2 linked regions of the Homo sapiens genome follow. The protein of the gene in region 1 purifies or fractionates together with the protein of each later gene. This does not show direct contact. Each region holds a gene or a part of one and is shown on either strand. Other genes may lie near its edges.

Region 1 (4,309 bases):
TCTAACCTGTGTGCTGGCTAGGTTTTTCCTGCCCTTCCTTGCTTTTGACATTGCTGACAATAGTTTACAGGAATAGCATATGCTAGCAGACTCAAGAAACTTAACCTTGGGCTGGGACTTTTGTAAGTCAATTAGCTAATTTACTGATTAAATGTCATATATTTTCCCAACAAACATTTGTCTGACCAGTGCAAAAGTGACCAAAAGCAAAGGTGATTTCTGGTTTGAGTTTGATTTCTGGTTTGAGTTTAACACTTCCACAAAATTTTGTTCTTGATTTTTAATACACCTAAATATATTGTTATGGGATAATTTAGGAATTAGAGAGACTGAGGGGTTGAGGAGGATTTATTGTTTAGGTGTATTGGCCTAGTTGCATTAATATTTAAAGGACTGGGTTTTGAATAAAGAGTTGTTATTTTTTAAGTATTTTGTGGGGCGGGGGAAGATTTGTAATAATATAGTATCTGACTGTTAACAGTGGTATCAAAAGAAAAACACAGAACCATGTGAAAAATACTGGTCCAGGCATGTTACTGCCTACATTCTTATAGAAAGACTTATTTAGCGGCCAGGCACAGGTGCTCACACCTATAATCCCAGCACTTTGGGAGGCCAAGGTGGGCAGATCACTTGAGGTCAGGAGTTCGAGACCAGCCTGGCCAACATAGCGAAACCCCATCTCTACTAAAAATACAAAAATTAGCCGGGCGTGGTGGCGTGCGCCTATAATCCCAGCTACTCAGGAGGCTGAGGCACGAGAATTGCTTGAACCCCAGAGGAGGAGGTTGCACTGAGCTAAGATCGTGCCACTGAACTCCAGCCTGGGTGACAGAGCAAGAATCCATCTCAAAACAAACAAAAAAACAGAAAGTCTTATTTACCAAATCTTGGTAAATTTGGGGGTGGGGGGATTCGTGTATATGTATACACACACACACACACATATACATATATATATGAAAGAAATAAAACTGGGAAATTAACATGCACCATTCCCTGCCTCTTTAACAATAATTGAAAAATGTTTTTGACCTTAGAATACTATGCTACTTGCAAATTAACCTATTTTAAGAGATTGAACAAGTAAAGATATTTGCACTACAGAATGAACGAACTGTATTTAAGAGATTTGTATTCCAGCTCCAGATTAAATTCAAACCATGCTTACATGGGTTTTGACTATAAGGAGGTTTTATACCTTTTTTAAGAGTGCACTTGAGGCCGGGCGCGGTGGCTCACGCCTGTAATCCCAGCACTTTGCGAGGCCGAGGCGGGCGGATCATGAGGTCAGGAGTTCAAGACCAGCCTGGCCAACATGGTGAAACCCTGTCTCTACTAAAAATACAAAAAAATTAGCTGGGCATGGTGGCGTGTGCCTGTAATCCCAGCTACTCAGGAGGCTAAGACAGGAGAATTGCTTCAACCGGGACCTGGGAGGCGGAGGTTGCAGTGAGCCGAGATGGTGCCACTGCACTCCAGCCTAGGCTACAGAGCGAGACTCCATCTCAAAAAAAAAAAAAAAAAAAAAGAGTGCACTTAATTAAAGACCACAAAGACAGAAATAATGCGCAGGTGCAACAGGAGAAAACATTTGTAACATGTTCTTGCCAATATTGACTTTGTTGGACTTCATCTAATTTAGACCAGAAGAATGATTTATCTATGAGAACACCAAAACTATTATTGAAAATTTTAGAAAGCCCTTGCCCAAATTGACAAATTAAATTAGAAGATAACTTTTCAGATCATGCTTAACTTGAAACTTATCAGAAGCATTACTTTTTTTTTTTTTTTTTGTAACTAGTCAAAGTAACATACCTCCCTGAAATGTGTGACAAATATAATCCCCAAAAGAAATCTCTTTCCATGGTCCGGACCTTCTGATACGTTCTGAAACTTCACAATTCTTCTCATTTTCCCCAGTTAATTGAAGCATTCTGATGCTTCGTCCTTGGAGGTCTTATTTCTTTAGATAAGACTGCTGTTGTCTAGTGTCTTCTGAGTTGTCTAGTGTATTGGAATCACATAAGACTATTTTGAAAGAGAATCCTGGATGCAAATTGAAATGGATACTAGATAAAGAATGATGTAATCCTGGAACCCCTGCAAACACTAAAAATACACGGGGAAATTCTGAACTCTGTTTATGAATAAATACTCCTCTATTAAGTGACAATCCCAGGAGTGACAGGGATATCTGACTCATTTACTTTTGTAGCATCTCACCACAATTAAAGTAAATCATTTCTTGAAAGAAATGGACACTATTCTCTACAAAGCATGAGAATTTAAAATGTTTTGCCCAAATCTTGGCATTTCATGTTAGAATAAACTTTGTTTGGAGTGCTTTGCATGCTACCATATAAAATGGGTTTAGTGAAGAGCTTTTCCTGACAGTGACAAGTGGTTAATCAATTCCAGTTGCAAATGACAGCAAAAAAAATACACATAGCTTGCCACGTTTGCTGCTTTAATTATAATTTATTAGTCATTCTATTTCCTGAGAGAATTTAGTCTGGTTAGAATGCCCTTCATTGTTAAAGTTTGCTTTAAAATATTAAAGAAAATAATTATATACAAGTAATTACTTTGGCTAGTAGAAATGAAGTTTCTCAAAATACTCTTAGTAAGCCACTACCTATTTACTTCTTAAATAACAACTGCTACAAGATCTACGAACTTGCAAAAAATAAAGCTGAAAATCCTCCACAAATTGATGCAGCCAACAGCATTTGCTACTTTAAGTGACAATTTTTCAAACTACCCACTTAAAATCAAAGTATAAATATAATCTGCCTTCCAGAAATACTAGTCATATGAATTATCTAGGAGGGATTTTCTTTAAATATTAGGAACAAATTCATGTACTTTTACCTGAAATTCCACCATAGATCTCTTCTGCTATCCTAGCCGCTTCTTTTCTATTTCCTTTGACGATATAGAAATGGGTTAGGAGAGCCAAAAAAACTTTAATTAAAAGCTTAAAGAAAAAAAACGTAGCAAACATTGTAATAAAAATGTTTTTAAAGCCATAGAAAACAGGACCATCTTCCATTTTGGCTTATGCTCTGTATAGGGTCCTAGGACTGTAAAATTTCACTGAGTTATAATTGGTATCATATGACATCTATTTTAAACCTTCTAGCACTCAGTGCTCCTGTTACCGAGATCTCTGTAGGTTCTAATCTAACTGATTTGGCGACTGCATGTGCTGACTCCACAGCAGTGTTAAATAAACTAAAGAAACTTCCTTCTAACCAGAAACATCCAATAGTTCTAGAACTACATAACTCAGTACTATCTAACAGATAAGATTCATATCCAAACATTTTATATTCCTAAACCCCTATTTTTCCTATTTTATGTTAGAAAGCAGGGTTGGAAAGATAGAAACTTCTTGGCTTCCACAGAAACAAAGCAAGTTATTTGACATACAAAAGAAGTGCAAATATGCTGTATGTTCTAAGTGGGAAATACTACTCCCTGGAGCATTTCATTTTCTCTTAATTCTGAAGTTTATAGAGGATTAAATCCAAATCTAAAATATGACCAGTTAAAAAAGACCATTTACCTGGCCGGGCGCGGTGGTTGACTCCTGTAATCCCAGCACTTTGGGAGGCTGAAGCAGGCGGATCACCTGAGGTCAGGAGTTTGCGACCAGCCTGGCCAACATGGCGAAACCCCCGTCTCTACTAAAAGTACAAAAATTAGCTGGGCGTGGTGGCAGGTGCCTGTAATCCCAGCTACTCAGGAGGCTGAGGCAGGAGAATTGCTTGAACCTGGGAGGCGGAGGTTGCAGTGAGCCGAGATCGCGCCACTGCACTCCAGCCTGGGTGACAAGAGCAAGATTCTGTCTCAAAAAAAAAAAAAAAAAAGACAATTTACCCTAAAGCTGTATGTATGTATGTATGCATGTATGCACGTATGTATGTATTTAGTTTTAAGATGGAGTCTTACTCTGTTGCCCAGGCTGGAGTGCAATGGTGCGATCGCGGCTCACTGCAACCTCTGCCTCCTGGGTTCAAGCGATTCTCCTGCCTCAGCCTCCCAAGAAGCTGGGATTACAGGCATGCGTCACCACGCCTGGATAATTTTCGTATTTTTAGTAGAGACGAGGTTTCGCCATGTTGGCCAGGCTGGTCTCGAACCCCTGACCTCAGGTGATCCACCCACTTTGGCCTCCCAAAGTGCTAGGATTACAGGTGTGAGCCACTGCACCCGGCCAAGCCTGTATTTAATAAAAGGCCTATCTTGGATGCCTCTCCAAGTAAGTGTCACACTAGAAGCATCAGACTACTCGCCATGG
Region 2 (3,817 bases), on another chromosome or scaffold:
CCACCCGTGAAGAGAGCATCCCTGTTTCCCTGTCTTATACAGGAGGAAACCAAGGCACAGAGAAGACACGCCCAAGGGCACACGCCTCATGAACAATGTTGTTCTTCCAACCCAGGCAGCTCACGGGCACCGACATTCTGAAACACTGCTGATGCAGGTTAACAACAATGGGAGCTCCCAGCATATGACATTTTAATAACTGGGTTTTTTTTTTTTTTTTTGAGACGGAGTCTCTCTCTGTCTCCCAGGCTGGAGTGCAGTGGCACGATCTCGGCTCACTGTAAGCTCCACCTCTCCGGTTTTACGCCATTCTCCTGCCTCAGCCTCCTGAGTAGCTGGGACTACAAGGCATGCACCACCTACGCCCGGCTAATTTTGTTTTTTGAATTTTTAGTAGAGACGGGGTTTCACCGTGTTAACCAGGATGGTCTCGATCTCCTGACCTCGTGATCCGCCCGCCTCGGCCTCCCAAAGTGCTGGGATTACAGGCGTGAGCCACCACGCCCAGCCGTAACTGGGTTTTTTTTTTTATTTTTTTAAAGTTCAAAAGAAAAAGCTTGAGGATAAAAGATTAATGCAAAATTCTGAGTATCAATCACTCCTTAGGTGGGGGGCCCATGCTCAGGGAAGGCACACCAGGATTCAGAGGTCTGATGAAGCCCTGTTTCTGAAGCTGGTACCTGAGAGTCCTGGTCATTACTGTCTATCAGCTGTAAAGGCACACCATATACTCTCATGGAAATGATCATTCCAGTGCTCACTTCCGCAGCACATATGCTCAAATTGGGATGATACAGAGAAGATTAGCATTTTCCCAATAATCTTAAAAAGTAAAAAAAAAATTTTAAATAATTTTAAAAGGATTAAATGATCATTCCATACTTTGAAAAAAGTATAATTTATTGCCAAGCTTCCTTCTGGAGATAAAATTACTTTTGTATTTGTTGAATTATTGTGCTGTGGCTTTGATCTGTAAATAAAATATCAGGCTTTATCCATAATTGTTACCTCTGATAAACTTTTTTGAATTAGAGCATGTTTAAATTCACAAAAGTCAATTCAGATCAGGAGAAAAATATGTAGAGTTTGAATCAAAGCTATAATCTTAATTGTCTGTGAAGAGCAGTTAAAAAAAACAGATAACTAACCTTAAATTGACCATTAAAATTTACTTTTAGCCTTAAAAAGAAAAAAGGAAAACTCAAATCATGTATCCTACCAACTGGGTGGACGTCTTTCTACCCTACAGAGGTATTGGTGACTTGTGGATCTGAATTGTCAACTTCTGAATAACTTTTTTGGGAATGAAGTCAAATCCTAGTGGCTATATTTTGTTGAATGGAGGAATTATTTCTGATCTAGCTAATCATTTTCTTATATAGATCTTAATGCAACCTTCAGTTATATATTTGTCATTTATTTGTTGAATGCCTGTTTCATCCATAAAAGCAGGGAATGCTAATTCCTCTGCCAGTGCCTAAGCTCAATCAACATTAGCTGAATGAAGGAGAAGGAAGCTCACCCTGAGCTTTGCTGTTAACAGCACAGCCAGAGCAGGAGGGCTTTGCATCTGGCTGGGGCAGGTAATGGGGAGGCAAGGCCGGCCCCAGCATGTGGTGGCCACTGGTCTGGGCAGCAGTGAGGCCCATCAGGGGTGCAGTGCCTCCAGTCACTGAGGAAGTTCTAGCCTGGCCTCACAGAGGATAGTCCCAGCAACAGCTCAGGAGACAGAGACACTTGGCTATCAGAGATGTCATTAAGCAAGGAGACAAAGGACACCCCACGAACTGTAATAGAAGCTTGGACTCTAGGAGAAGCTTTGACTGAGCTCTTGACCTAGGCCCTCCAATCCCACAGACATGGAGCCTCTGACCTTGTGCCAGAGCAGGCGAAGGGTCCCTGCCGGGACAACAAGGTGGAGCCAGGGCAAATCTCTCTAAAAGAGGAAGGTGCTCCTGTGTGCCAGCACTGAAAGGCCTGTGGAGCCCCAGGCACCCATCAGTCCTGCTGTGGGAAGGGCTGATGAGCTGCTGTCAGCGTCACCACAAACCAGAGGTGCGGTTGGGCTTTTCCTTCCCTTTATTCGGGACACACCATAAAGCTGCCACTGGACACTGTCTGCTTTTCACTAACAAGGTGGTCCCCGTACATCAATCTGGCACATTATTTCCTTAGATTAAATCCCTAGAAGTGCAGCTGACAAGTCCAAGGGTACATACGAGTTACAGGTAGTCTACGTGGCTGAAGGACCAATGAAAGGTGTGCAAATACACACACCCTCCAACAAGAGAGCCTGCTCGCTCTCTGTCACACACTCCTCCCCCAGCCACCAAGTATCTACCTTTGTGCCTGCCAATCTGGTGAGTGGTAAGCCACACTTCATGGTCTTCTGCGCCTTTCTCTGGTTACTGATGAGAGTGAACATCTCCTCAGATATTTACTGCCCACCTCTATTTCTCCTTTTATGAATCACCTATTTGTAGCCAATGCCACATTTTTCCAGAGAAGTATCCGTCTTTTTTATAATGAATAGTAAGGACTATTTACATACCAAGGATGTTAATCCAGTTGATCATTTCTTCTTCCATTTTGTGTTTTTAATTTTTACATGGTCAAATCTGACAATCTTTTTCCTTAAGACGTCTGGCTTTTATATCAGGATACCATCTGTTCATCCTTATAAGGCTTTGCTAATCATCTGACTTCCCAGAAGACGGCAAAAGGGACAAGAGAGCTTCCTATTCTGGACCCATTTCTGACTAAGGCAGGGACAAGACAGGGAAGTAGAGTATGGCCCCCCAGAAAGTGAGCCAGGTGTCCTCACAAGCACAGGAGGAAGCGGGGCAGTGGGGGCCTGGGCCAAACACATTTATAACCTGCAACCAAAGATAGTGGAATTTTAATGTTTCAATACGTAAAGGACAGATACTTCAAAGGGAAGATGCTTTTTTAAAAAGGTATGTCTGGTAAAATGTATTTTTAACCATCTGTGAAAAACGAGGCTGATATTGAAGAAGGAGCAGTATATACAAAAATGAAATGGGCAAATGGGCACTAACTGTACTTGTGAAGAGAAAGGCATCCGGCCCGGCGCGGTGGCTCACACCTGTAACCCCAGCACTCTAGGAGGCCGAGGCGGGCAGATCACAAGGTCAGGAGATTGAGACCATCCTGGCTAACACAGTGAAACCCAGTCTCTACTAAAAAATACAAAAATTAGCCGGGCGTAGTGGTAGGCGCCTGTAGTCCCAGCTACTCGGGACGCTGAGGCAGGAGAATGGCGTGAACCTGGGAGGCGGAGCTTGCAGTGAGCTCAGATCGCGCCACTGCACTCCAGCCTGGGCAACAAAGCGAGACTCCATCTCAAAAAAAAAGAGAAAGGGATCCTGAGGTAAGATTTCCAGCAGCCACAGTTTACACATTTCCTTTCAAAGGTGATTAGTGTTTACTAAGGAGAGAGGAATGAAAGAAAAGAGATACGGAAGTTGAGCATGAGAAATGACTTAGGCCACTAATTGCATTTCATGTCAAAAGTAGGAGAAATGTGCTAAGAAAACACTTTGTGCCTACTTTCCAAACTGGCTGAGTGTGAGGCACATACAGTTCAAATACCTAGCCTAAAGTCCCACAGCTGCCCCGGGCAGCCGGGCAGGGGTGGGGGCGGGGGCGGCGAGCTGGACTCAGGTCCAGGTGGTCTGATATCAAAGCCCCTGCAATCAACCTTGCTGCCTTAAAGTGATGAAAGGGACAAAGTGCAGAAAAAATAAAGCCCAAATGTGAAACTTACTTTAAAAACCAACCAATCCACCTACACAAC

The links.
Region 2: the proteins of ASB11 (region 1) and UBE2F purify together in Homo sapiens (affinity purification with western blotting, with the first as the bait; one study listed by BioGRID). This does not show direct contact.

What each region holds. Positions count from the first base shown.
Region 1 is NC_000023.11:15,312,548-15,316,856, forward strand, and holds the start of ASB11 (ankyrin repeat and SOCS box protein 11), read right to left. Parts: upstream 3,094-4,309; 5' UTR 3,059-3,093; coding exon 2,878-3,058; intron 2,013-2,877; exon of another isoform or gene 1,940-2,012; coding exon of another isoform or gene 1,822-1,939; intron 1-1,821. UniProt on the Homo sapiens protein: Substrate-recognition component of a cullin-5-RING E3 ubiquitin-protein ligase complex (ECS complex, also named CRL5 complex), which mediates the ubiquitination and subsequent proteasomal degradation of target proteins, such as BIK, DIRAS2 and RPN1.
Region 2 is NC_000002.12:238,026,000-238,029,816, reverse strand, and holds part of UBE2F (NEDD8-conjugating enzyme UBE2F), read right to left. Parts: intron 1-3,817. UniProt on the Homo sapiens protein: Accepts the ubiquitin-like protein NEDD8 from the UBA3-NAE1 E1 complex and catalyzes its covalent attachment to other proteins. Together with the E3 ubiquitin ligase RNF7/RBX2, specifically neddylates cullin-5 (CUL5).